3 linked regions of the Homo sapiens genome follow. The protein of the gene in region 2 interacts with the protein of the main gene of each other region in a biochemical or structural test. Each region holds a gene or a part of one and is shown on either strand. Other genes may lie near its edges. The genes, in order: MAST3, FRMPD4 and SLC15A5.

Region 1 (3,653 bases), on a different chromosome or scaffold from region 2:
AACCATCACCACCATCACCGTGGCCATTAGGGTCTCCTTCTTCCCCTTCCAATAGTTGTGGGAATTTTTTTTTTTTTTTTTTTTTTTTTTTTTTTTTTTTTTTTGAGACAGCGTCTGGCTATGTCGCCCAGACTGGAATGCAGTGGTGCAATCTTGGCTCACTGCAACCTCCGCCTCCAGAGTAGCTGGGATTGTGGGCATGTGCCACCACACCCGGCTAATTTTTGTATTTTTTATAGAGATGAGGTTTCACCATGTTGCCCAGGCTGGTCTTGAACTCCTGGTCTCAAGTGATCCACCTGCCTTGGCCTCCCAAAGTGCTGGGATTACAGGCATGAGCCACTGCACCCAGCCAGTTGTGGGATCTTATACCACTTCCTCCACTACCCCACGTGAAACAGGGAGGGATTTGAACCCTGGTGGGGGGTCCCACTTGCACCCCATCCAGGCATTTCCTTCCAAAACTCTGACAGTCCTAGGTTCCCAGTCTGGCTCCCCCACTCCTGCACTGTGTGACCCGACAAGTGACTTAACCCCTCTGTGCCTCAGTTTTCTCATTTGGAAAATGGCCCAGTGACATAGGGTCCCTGGAGGAATCAATGAGTAGCAAGCTCAGAGCCTGGTGCTGGGGGAGACTTGGATGGATGGGAGTCAAGACAATGATCAAGACGTGAATAATAACCACCAGTTGAAAGTTGCTTCCAAAAGACAAAAAGATGTGAATATTTTGTTTGTTTGTTTGTTTTCAGATGGAGACTTGCTCTGTCGCCCAGGCTGGAGGGCAATGGTGCGATCTTGTCTCACTGCAACCTCCACCTCCTGGGTTCAAGCGATTCTTCTGCCTCAGCCTCCCAAGTAAGCTGGGATTACAGGCGCCCACCACCACGCTTGGCTGATTTTGTATTTTTAGTAGAGATAGGATTTCACCATGTTGGTCTGGCTGGTCTTGACCTCCTGACCTCAAGCAGTCCTCCCATCTCGGCCTCCCAAAACGCTGGATTACAGGCATGAGCCACTGTGCCTGGCCTGAAGATGTTTTTTTAAAGTGGCAGAGAGAGGTGAGGCAAAATCGGCAGCTCCCTGCAAAGGCTCCCGGGGAAGCTGGACCACACAGAACTCTCCTGGCACCACTCCCGGACCCTTCGGTCCCCGCACCATCTGCTTTCCACCCACAGCTCCCTCTGTGCCTGCTGTTCCCCTGGGAGTGGTTCCCACCCAGAGGAGTGGAGGTTGGGGAGGCCCCGACCCCCTGAAACTGCCCTTTAAAGGTAATATTTATGGTATACCCGTCTGCGCTTGCCCAGGCTGGGGGATGCTGCCTCCCCAACAAGCTTTAGCCCCACCTTGAGGAAATCCCATTTTGGAGAAGACATAGCACAGCAGGAGCACCCCCATACTGGAGGGATTAAGAGAGACCCGAAGCAGCTGGGTGCTGTGGCTCATGCCTGTAATCCCAGCACTTTGGGAGGCTGAGGCGGGAGGATCACTTAAGATCAAGAGTTTGAGCCAGGTGCGGTGGCTCACGCCTGTAATCCCAGCACGCTGGGAGGCCAAGGTGGGCGGATCACAAGGTCAGGAGTTCAAGATCAGCCTGGCCAACATAGTGAAACCCCGTCTCTACTTAAAATACAAAAATTAGCTGGATGTGGTGGCAGGCGCCTGTAGTCCCAGCTACTCGGTAGGCCGAGGCAGGAGAATCCCTTGAACCCCGGAGGCGGAGGTTGCAGTGAGCCAAGACCACACCATTGTACTCCAGCCTGGGTGACAGAATGAGACTCCGTCTCAAAAAAAAAAAAAAAAAAGGTGGCCGGGCGCAGTGGCTCATGCCTGTAATCCCAGGACTTTGGGAGGCTGAGGCAGGCAGATCACCTGAGGTCAGGAGTTCGAGACCAGCCTGACCAACATGGAGAAACCCCGTCTCTACTAAAAATACAAAATTAGCAGGATGTGGTGGCGCATGCCTGTAATCCCAGCTACCTGGGAGGCTGAGGCAGGAGAATCGCTTGAACTCGGGGGCAGAGGTTGCGGTGAGCCGAGATCGTGCCATTGCACTCCAGCCTGGGCAAGAAGAGCGAAAGAGTGAAACTCCGTTTCAAAAAAAAAAGGCCAGGCGCAGTGGCTAACACCTGTAATCTCAGCACTTTGAGAGGCCGAGGTGGGAGGATCACGAAGTCAGCAGATGGAGACCATCCTGGCTAACACGGTGAAAGCCCGTCTCTGCTAAAAATACAAAAAATTAGCCGGGTGTGGTGGCAGGAGCCTGTAGTCCCAGCTACTCGGGAGGCTGAGGCAGGAGAATGGCATGAACCTGGGAGGTGGAATGAGCGGAGATCACGCCACTGCACTCCAGCCTGGGCGACAGAGCAAGACTCCGTCTCAAAAAAAAAAAAAAAAAAAAAAAGAGTTTGAGGCCATTCTGGCCAACATGGTGAAACACCATCTCTACTAAAAAATATAAAAATTATATTAGTCGGGTGTGGTGGCGCTCGCCTGTAATCCAGCTACTCAGGAGGCTGAGGCTGTGAGAATCGCTTGTATCCAGGTGACGGAGCCTGCAGTGAGCCAAGATGGCGCCACTGCACTCCAGCCTGGGCCACCGCACTCCAGCCTGGGCGACAGGGCAAGATCCTGTCTAAAAAAAGAGAGACTCAAAGGGAGAAGAGGGGTTGGAGGCACACAGAGAGGAGAGCTAAGGGGCTTCCTGGAGTAGGGGGTGTCAAACAAAGCCTGCAGGCACATGGAAAACACCAGTCCATGCCCAGCAAACAGCACGTGCAAAGGGAGGTGAGACTCAGCCTGCTGGGCACCAAGCCCGGTTGGAAGTTCGATGCCCCTGGAATTAAATGGGAGAGAAGTCAGCATGGACCACATGGCACCAGCCCCAGGGCTTCCAGGAGGAGGAGGAGGAGGAGGAGAAGGAGAAGGAGGAGGAGGAGGAGGAGGAGGAAAATAAGTGGAAGCTGTCCATGAGAAAGCAGGATCACCTTGGAGGGCTGAACCTAGAGGAGCCACCCCAGTAGCGGCAGAGACAAAAGTCCAGATACAGGCTCTAGCCCTTCTCTGCCGGGGGATGCTCTGTTTGTGGGACCTGGTGTTTTGAAATTCGGTCATGTGTAAAGCAAAGGTCCAAGTAGGAGATGATAAATGTAATAAGATAATAGTAGTAGTAGTAATAACAGCTCACGTTACCCGGTGCCTGCACACGTTATGCGTGAGGCTGAGTTTAACCCAAATTGGGAAGGTCTCCACCTCCTCCCTGGACCCAGGGCTGTCGCAAACTGGCCGCCCGCGGGCCAGGCCGGATCCTTTTTCAGACCTTTCCTGCACACAGCCAACAGCACGCCTCACATTGTCACCACCGGAGAGGACGCCCTGGGCTATGCGTCTGGATTGGCCGGTCAGCACCCGTTTGTGAATGGACTCTTTGGCCTTTGGCCTCCAGGAAATCTGATTGGCTCGCATCAGCGATCTACCCCCTGATTGGCTGGGGTGCTCCTGGACCATTAACAAGGTTTCCAGTCAAAAGAGACCCCAAACTGGGGCTGATGAAGACAACACCTTCACGTGCCAGATTGGTTAGAATTTCTCTGGCTTCCTGGTGGGTACTTCCCTCTTTGGGCCTCAGTTTCTTCCTTTGAAAAGTGGAACTAATA
Region 2 (3,653 bases):
TAGCAAAAACCCAAATTAAATATGTGGGATTCTTGGAAGAAAGCATCCAGTAACCAAATACTATGAGCAAAAAATTAATTTATTACAGATATATTCTCTAGTAATTCATAATAGCTTCTTGAATTTTAAATGTCTTTTTGCTATTTCCAATGCTTAAAAATCATAATTTTAAAACATAAGTACTGTTTTATATACATTGTGATTTCTTTTCTTTTCTCTCTCTTTTTTGTTTTGTGTTTTACTTCTAAATATGAATGATATGGTTTCCAAGTAGCTACTTGGAAAGAAAGGGGATAGGATTCATTGTTTTGCTCTAACATGGTAGAATTTAAAATTTCACATCATATACCTGGAGTTTTAACTATATGAAAAATAGCCAAATGTCATCACTTTCTTGGATATTTCTTTTACGTGTATATATATGTATAATATAAACAGAATACATCTGATTAGTACATTTCAACATTTCATCAATGTGACTTTTATCTCCTATTTTATATAAAATAACAAAATATACAGAGAGAAGAAAGGAGACATCTGTTCATCATACACACAAAGTAAATAAAAGTTCATGTATGGCTTTGCAAAGGTAGATTATGACGTGACTTCCATATTTATTTGTTTAAAAGCCTCTTGAGAGAACGTGTCAGTGTGCTTACGAGAGCGGCCATGGTGGTTGAGTGTCGCGCCGAGAGTCCAACATTAGGGTCCCCAGGGTTCTTTCCAGTGGCTGCTTCGGCAGCTTTCAGTAGACAAATGTAATTTATGACCACTTCATCGATCTTCCCTACAATTTCCTGCCGCTGTGTTTCTGAGTTCACGACTTTAACTAATCGCATGCAAGCTTCTGTTAGGCAACAGAGCACTTGAAAGCTGGAAGTCATAGCTAGGAGCATCTCCTCCGGGCTTTTCTCAGCCATCGCCATTTTCCTACAGGCACTTCCCAACTGTCTGGACTCAATGGATAACAGTTGCTTGTACTGAGAAAGTGTAAGGTCGTACGCTTCAGGGCGTGACTCCTCCCTCTTCTCCTTGGTTGCCCTGACGAGACAGAGCAGCTCATTGGCATCATTTTGGGCTGCAAGGAACCCATCAGGCATTGCATATGTGCTCTCCTTTAGGGCATTTATTCTTGCAATCCGGGCATCAAAAGCCAGGTTGCTGAAGTCCAAGTCATCTGGGTCTCGCAGGTCTTCTGCCCAGACCTTCAGCACTGACCCTCTGGATAGCTCCCCTCGTTGCTTCTGAATCGCCACAGCCAGGCATGGGCTGCTTGGTTCTGGCATGGCTTGAGTCATCTGTGGTCTATAGAGGCAAGAGACCTGGACGGTGGCCTCTCCCCTCTCCTCTTCTTCCTCACCATCTTCATCCTGCCCTCGGTTCAGGAAGCAATAGCTGAAGGGTCCCCGGCATCTCCAATTGCTGCCCTCCAGCTTCCGCAAGGGTAATGTCCTATACAGCTTTGAGTCTTTATGAGCCACTGGGGACCTTTTGTGAAACCTCCCCTCAGAGCTCAAGTGCATTGAGCTTTGGGAAAAACTTTTGGTGAGCTTCCTCCCCAGGGGGAGTTCTGCTCGCCTTTCAGAACTGGCCTCCTGTGCTTCTGTGATGCCTGGACACTTTAAGCTGACTGCACCCTTGGTTCTCTCTCGGAAGGTCTCCAAATCGACAGATCCGGAGAGGATACTGCTGCTATGTCTCAGAGCCTTCTGGCTGGGAGGTGTCCTGAGGCTCCCCCCTCTCAGATCCGGTGGCCGCCAGCTCACAGCCTCTCCGTATGCCTGATTTGCTTGGGAGAAATCATTAGGGTCTTGATTTGGAATTGGCACCTTTGATTCCGAGTGAATGTTTGATGGTAGCAGGATGGGATCAGCTTCAGGATGTTGAGACCAAGCTGAAGGCATGCCTCCTCGTCTCTCCTTCCCAGGCTCTGTCAAAGCTACACTAGGGGTAGTAGAAAAACAGAGAGAATCATTAAGCATCTCCTGGGAGGTCATTTTTACTACATCTCTACATGATGTCTGTCATTTCTCAAGGTTGTAGTCTGGAAGGGCTGCCGATGCTAAGGTCACCCTGCTTTCCAAAGACTGCCTCTTGATATCTCATAACAAATTTCCATTTTAATGAATATCAAGAAAATACTGGAATCTGTTATTTCTGGAACTGCTGATTCATTTGGAATTGTCTAGAAATCCCAAACATTTTCAGGGATTTCATGAATTGCCTTACTCCCAATATCTACCCATCAAAGCTTAGACACAGAAAACAACTGTGTATAGATTATTCAAATATATTGGAGATATTAAGTTTCATTTCAAGGGAATTAGGTTAAATCTGGCATTGTTACTTTTCTTTTCTTTTCTTTCTTTCTTCCTCCTTTCTTTCTTTCTCTTTCTTTCTTTCTTTCTTTCTTTCTTTCTTTCCTTTCCTTTCCTTTCCTTTCCTTTCCTTTCCTTTCCTTTCCTTTCCTTTCCTTTCTTTCCTTTCTTTCTTTTAAAGAAGTGGCCTAATTTAATTAGTGCAAATTAAATAAGTGAATCTTTTTAAGAAGTCAGCATGAGGTTTGCCTGGTAAAAGTCTGAAGTTGAAACACTGGGCCAGTTGTTCAACATTTTTTTTTTTCTTTAAGAAAAGCTGTCATGTGAAGCAAATAATCCCCATCTCACAGAATTTTTGTGAGAAGCAAGAGGTAACTCAGGTGAAAGTTCTTTATAAATCATGAAGGATTAAACAGTGTGACTTAGTTTAGAGGTAAAGATGCAGTTGGGTGATGAGTTAGGTGATATTCACAGACAGCTTTTCCAAAGGAGGTAAAGCCAGTGGTGGGTTTTGAGAAAGTAGAAAATCTTAAAAGAACAGGAATAGAAAATGACCAATATAAGATGTCACTAACTTCCATTGACCTGTATGGAAAAGACACTATTGATGACATAATTTGAAACATAAAAGTATGAAAGAGTATCTGCTTTTGCCATGTGATGGCCAGCCAAGTGGATCGGTGAGGGGAATGCCTGCCATTGAGTGGTGGAGTGGTGAAGGTGGGATACAGAAGGTGGATGTGTTCTTTTTTCTACGTGTGTTTACACTTTATTATTTTGGGGAAAATAAAGCAGCTCATCAGGAATAGCCTCAAAATCTTCCTGACACTGGGGTATGCAAGACACTTCAGAACATCCATATAGAGCAGTCTTACAGAGTAGGGAGGAATCAGTAAGATTGCCGAAAGGCAAATGATCTCTCCAAACCCCTCCAATCTCCCTGATACCCTGCTCTCTTATCCTTCCTTGTCCCTCAATAATGAAATGGCAGAATTAGAACTCAGATGTCTTGGGAAGAAAATCAAACTGTTATGTGACTCTAAGCAATACTATCATATAACTAAAAGTCACACTGGGCATTGCTAAACATCTGCATTTAGAATTTAGGAAAAACATATTGCCCCATCCAATTCTGAAAGCAAGCACAGAGTAAGATTATAAAGAGCAAATGCCATTTTCACCTTTATAATCTTTAGTATTTATTAAATACCAGGGGATCAATGATTGGTACTTTACAGTTCTGTGGCCTTTTAAAATTCTACCTTTTACTTTTCTTCCAGACATTACGTTTTTAAGTTTGTTGTAAATATGGTTTACATGCTCTTGGCATGTCAT
Region 3 (3,753 bases), on a different chromosome or scaffold from region 2:
CTGCATTTTTTCAGCTAGGGTAGTAGCAATTCAGACAGAAGACCTTTCTTATATATAACCTCTGAAATTTAGTGACAGTTGGAATTTGATGGCAGCTGTAAGTGGAGGGCAACAAAGAAATAACTTTTAGTAAAAAAATGAATGGATGTAGAGTTGACTTAAGTCTTTTGTTTGCCAGATTCCAAAGTTGGGATTTCCATCCTGTCTGATGACTGACCTCAGAATTTAGACTGATAGAAATTACCATGTTAAACAAGAAGTCAACAAATGCTACTGGTGTGGCCTGTTACCAAGGTAAGCAGAGTAAGTTAGTCTGGGATTTGCTTAAATGTCTTCTTATCAGAAAACTTTTTCTCGGTACCAAGTAGCAGCCTCATCACCATCCATTCCATCCTGTCCCCCTACCCAGCTTTATTTTTCCATCCTAACTCATTGCCACATGACATCATATCTATTTCCTCTTTTATTTTCTCTCTCCCTGCACCAAAAAGTCAACTTTAGCAGGAACAGACGACTTTCTTCTCTATTGCATTTCCAGACCCAGAATAATGTCTGGTACAGAGTAGTCAATAAGAAATATTTGTTGAATGTTGAGTGATTATTTGCCATGCAGTGACCTAGTTTTTATTCCACAGAACTAAAGCTGTGAAGTTTCCAGGTTTGACTTAAACTCCAATGGATTCTCTGAATGGTAATTTACCACCTGCCTGAGATTGTGTGATATGTTGAGTACCTGATATCTATCCATCTCTTTCTCATCTGTCCCCCTACCAATACTCATTTCAGCTGCACTTCTCATTATTGGTGAACAGCATGCTATATTCCCAAGTTGCTCAGATCAGAAACTTGGAGCTAATTTTTGACCCCCATCACATTTGTACCTTTATTTAGTTGCCTTACAGCTTTTCACTTGTTCTCTCCTGAATTGGCACTTTATTGCTTAAACCATCATCCTGAGATTTTCTGATCTCTCTCTATTTAATTCCTCACTGTGGTTGTCCATCCTGTATTGCAGAATAGCATTTCTCAAATGTTGTTTTCATGATATTTTCAGAGACTTCTTGTTGCTTAAGAAGAATAACTTGAACTTTTCAGTTTAAAATTCTAGTCTGTTCTTCAAGTTGCTCTCTATTTCTTATTAAACTATCTTGATATTTTCCCAGCATTTCTCACAATCGGTCCCAAACTTTTGCAGATATATATTAGTATATATGTAAAGATGCACACTATAGTGTCTAATTTACTCATTTCTAAAGCATATAATCATAGTTAAAAATATAGAAATCATGCCATCATATGCAATCTTAATTACTATATGACTAATTAAAAGACCACCTTTGGATAAAAACATTTCTCAATTATTTTACATGAACTTCAAAAACCTTTTTTAGCACATTTCATCTTAGTTGTGAAGCAAATACATTTCACATTTCTGAGGGAATTTGTCATGAATTTAGGCTTGAGGTAAAAAGGTTTTGGGAAAGGAGGGCATTCTAAGGAGTAAGATAGATATGTAAAGGAGTAATTATTATAAAATATAAATGCAATGATATAGGCACAAAACATTCTCTAACACACACACACACACACACAGACTTACTAGCATTCTTCAAATAGTACAAAGAATGAAATACATTGAACCCACATTCTTACTTCATTTATCACATTTTATGCTAAGAGCAGAGTGAAAATAATATAAACTAAAAATTCTAACAAAAATCTACTTAATTAAGTCACAAAACAATCCAGTCAGCAGAGGACACTCACCTAGAAAATGTAGAAACAAGCAAATGTACACCAGTTTGTTTCTTCCTAAATAGACATCAGTGAGCCATCTGACAAACACAGGGGTAAGTATTGAAGTTCCAATAAAACACAAGTTTAAGATGGCTGCTTGGCAATTGTGATAGCCAAGCTTGATAGTGCAAAAGGGGATCATGTTGCAGACGACTTCAAAGAACGTGAACCTCTCACACAGCTCCACCAGAAGCAAGCAGATTCCAACCTGAATTTTTTTCACAGAGTGTGAGGAACACAAATCGCCAATATGTCTTACAGTTTTCTCCTTCTCAATGCTGTGATATAAGTGTACTTTCTCATCAGTTATGGTAAAGCCTGTAACAGACATGACTACCCTCCTTGAACAAAACTTATGTTAGTGGTTTGAACTTGGTGATATTTTGAGCCCCATCCCTCTGATGAAAAAAATAAGAACGTTGCTTTGAATTTCACATCTCCATGCTAGAATTTCATAAGGTTTGTTTTTTGCACATGGACGTTGTTCCTTTTGATGATCCAAGAGCATGAGTATTTAAATGTTCACAGTAGCTCAGTGTACCCAAATCTGATTTGTTTGCTTAATTACTTAGCGGCTAAATTAGGATCGTCCTCCAAAATTGTATTGAATTACATGAATCCAGTTGCAAACATGTGGAAACTCATCTGCCTCATACTGATAAAGGTTTAAATATTGAGGCAGAAGAAGCAGGTTTTCGGGAGAATTTGAGCACTAGATCAAGAAATAATTTGAGTCTAATAATTTCTGATACTTTAATTAAACAAGCCAGAACAGTACCAAGAGATAAAGCGCAAAAGGAAATCTGTTTTGAAGGGCACGATATCTTATCATTATTACATTTCTTGTTATTTTTGGTTGGAATTCTGATAAGAAACTTAATTAGGTAACAAAAGTGCTAGTACATTTAGGTAACAAGCAGAGTTTACAAGAAAGTAATTTAAGTGCACTAATGAAAGGAGAAAATATTAAACGAAACCCTGCTTCCTTTTAGTTGACCCCATGCTTGTAGAACAGCCTCTCAGAGGAAATCAGAATCAAAAGGTGCTATTTAACTCCTTTATTATTAATCAGTAGTCAGGGATACAGCAACCAGCCTACACAGGCTTTGGGGAATATTGGATCTGGTATCACCCTGACCCTTCAGCTGGGTGAATGGGTGTTAGCATTCTATTTTGGAAAGCAGGAGGGCCAATTAAGCTAAAAAAGCAGCAGTGAAAGAGAACACCTTAACATTTAGTGGCTTAGCTGCAAGGACATAGGAAGAAAAGGGACCGGAACTATTGGGTCAAAGTCATAATAATTCAACACTTGAGTATAGGAATGTTATTTTCATGCTGTAGTCAAAACCTAAAGACCAATAGGGACTTTTGACTCTGGTTATCATCTTTTGGTTGTGAGAGACTGGGGGCAAAATACTCTGTTTTGACCCCTTCTAATAGCCTCATTGTAATGGTAGCTATTTGTCTCTGCTCAGCATTGCTACTTTGGTAACGATGCCCTAAATTTCCTTTGTGTAAATTGATCATGCAATTTATGATCCAAACTTGGACAGTTTTGTGCAGGTGAAAAGTGATGCTATTTATGGTTACTCCCCAAAAAAAAAAAACAGTTATAAACTGGGACTGTCCAGGGCAACACTCTAACATGTGTTCACCCTACCTTTGGAGAATGACTCCTATCTATTACCTGAGATCATGGTGGGGCTGTTGATCAGCATATGCCTTTTCTTCTAACCAAGTGGGTCAACACCCGGTCTAAGATAGTCCTTTTACTTTTCTCCTGTGGAATTTTAATCTTGAGTGGAATGACTTAAGAATGGGCATGGTGGCAGCTGAGTTATTCAGATGGCAGTGTATTAGTCTGTTTTCATGCTGCTAATAAAGACATATCCGAGACTGGATAATTATAAAGGAAAGAGGTTTAATGGACCTACAGTTTCACCTGGCTGGGGTGGC

Evidence for each region.
Region 1: the proteins of FRMPD4 (region 2) and MAST3 interact in a test that uses a peptide from one of them, tested with the Homo sapiens proteins (one large-scale study listed by IntAct).
Region 3: the proteins of FRMPD4 (region 2) and SLC15A5 interact in a test that uses a peptide from one of them, tested with the Homo sapiens proteins (one large-scale study listed by IntAct).

Annotation. Positions count from the first base shown.
Region 1 is NC_000019.10:18,100,631-18,104,283, reverse strand, and holds part of MAST3 (microtubule-associated serine/threonine-protein kinase 3), read right to left. Parts: intron 1-3,653.
Region 2 is NC_000023.11:12,718,820-12,722,472, reverse strand, and holds part of FRMPD4 (FERM and PDZ domain-containing protein 4), read right to left. Parts: intron 1,945-3,653; coding exon of another isoform or gene 1,940-1,944; coding exon 615-1,939; 3' UTR 1-614. UniProt on the Homo sapiens protein: Positive regulator of dendritic spine morphogenesis and density. Required for the maintenance of excitatory synaptic transmission. Binds phosphatidylinositol 4,5-bisphosphate.
Region 3 is NC_000012.12:16,275,558-16,279,310, forward strand, and holds the start of SLC15A5 (solute carrier family 15 member 5), read right to left. Parts: upstream 2,129-3,753; coding exon 1,768-2,128; intron 969-1,767; exon of another isoform or gene 636-968; intron 295-635; exon of another isoform or gene 1-294. UniProt on the Homo sapiens protein: Proton oligopeptide cotransporter.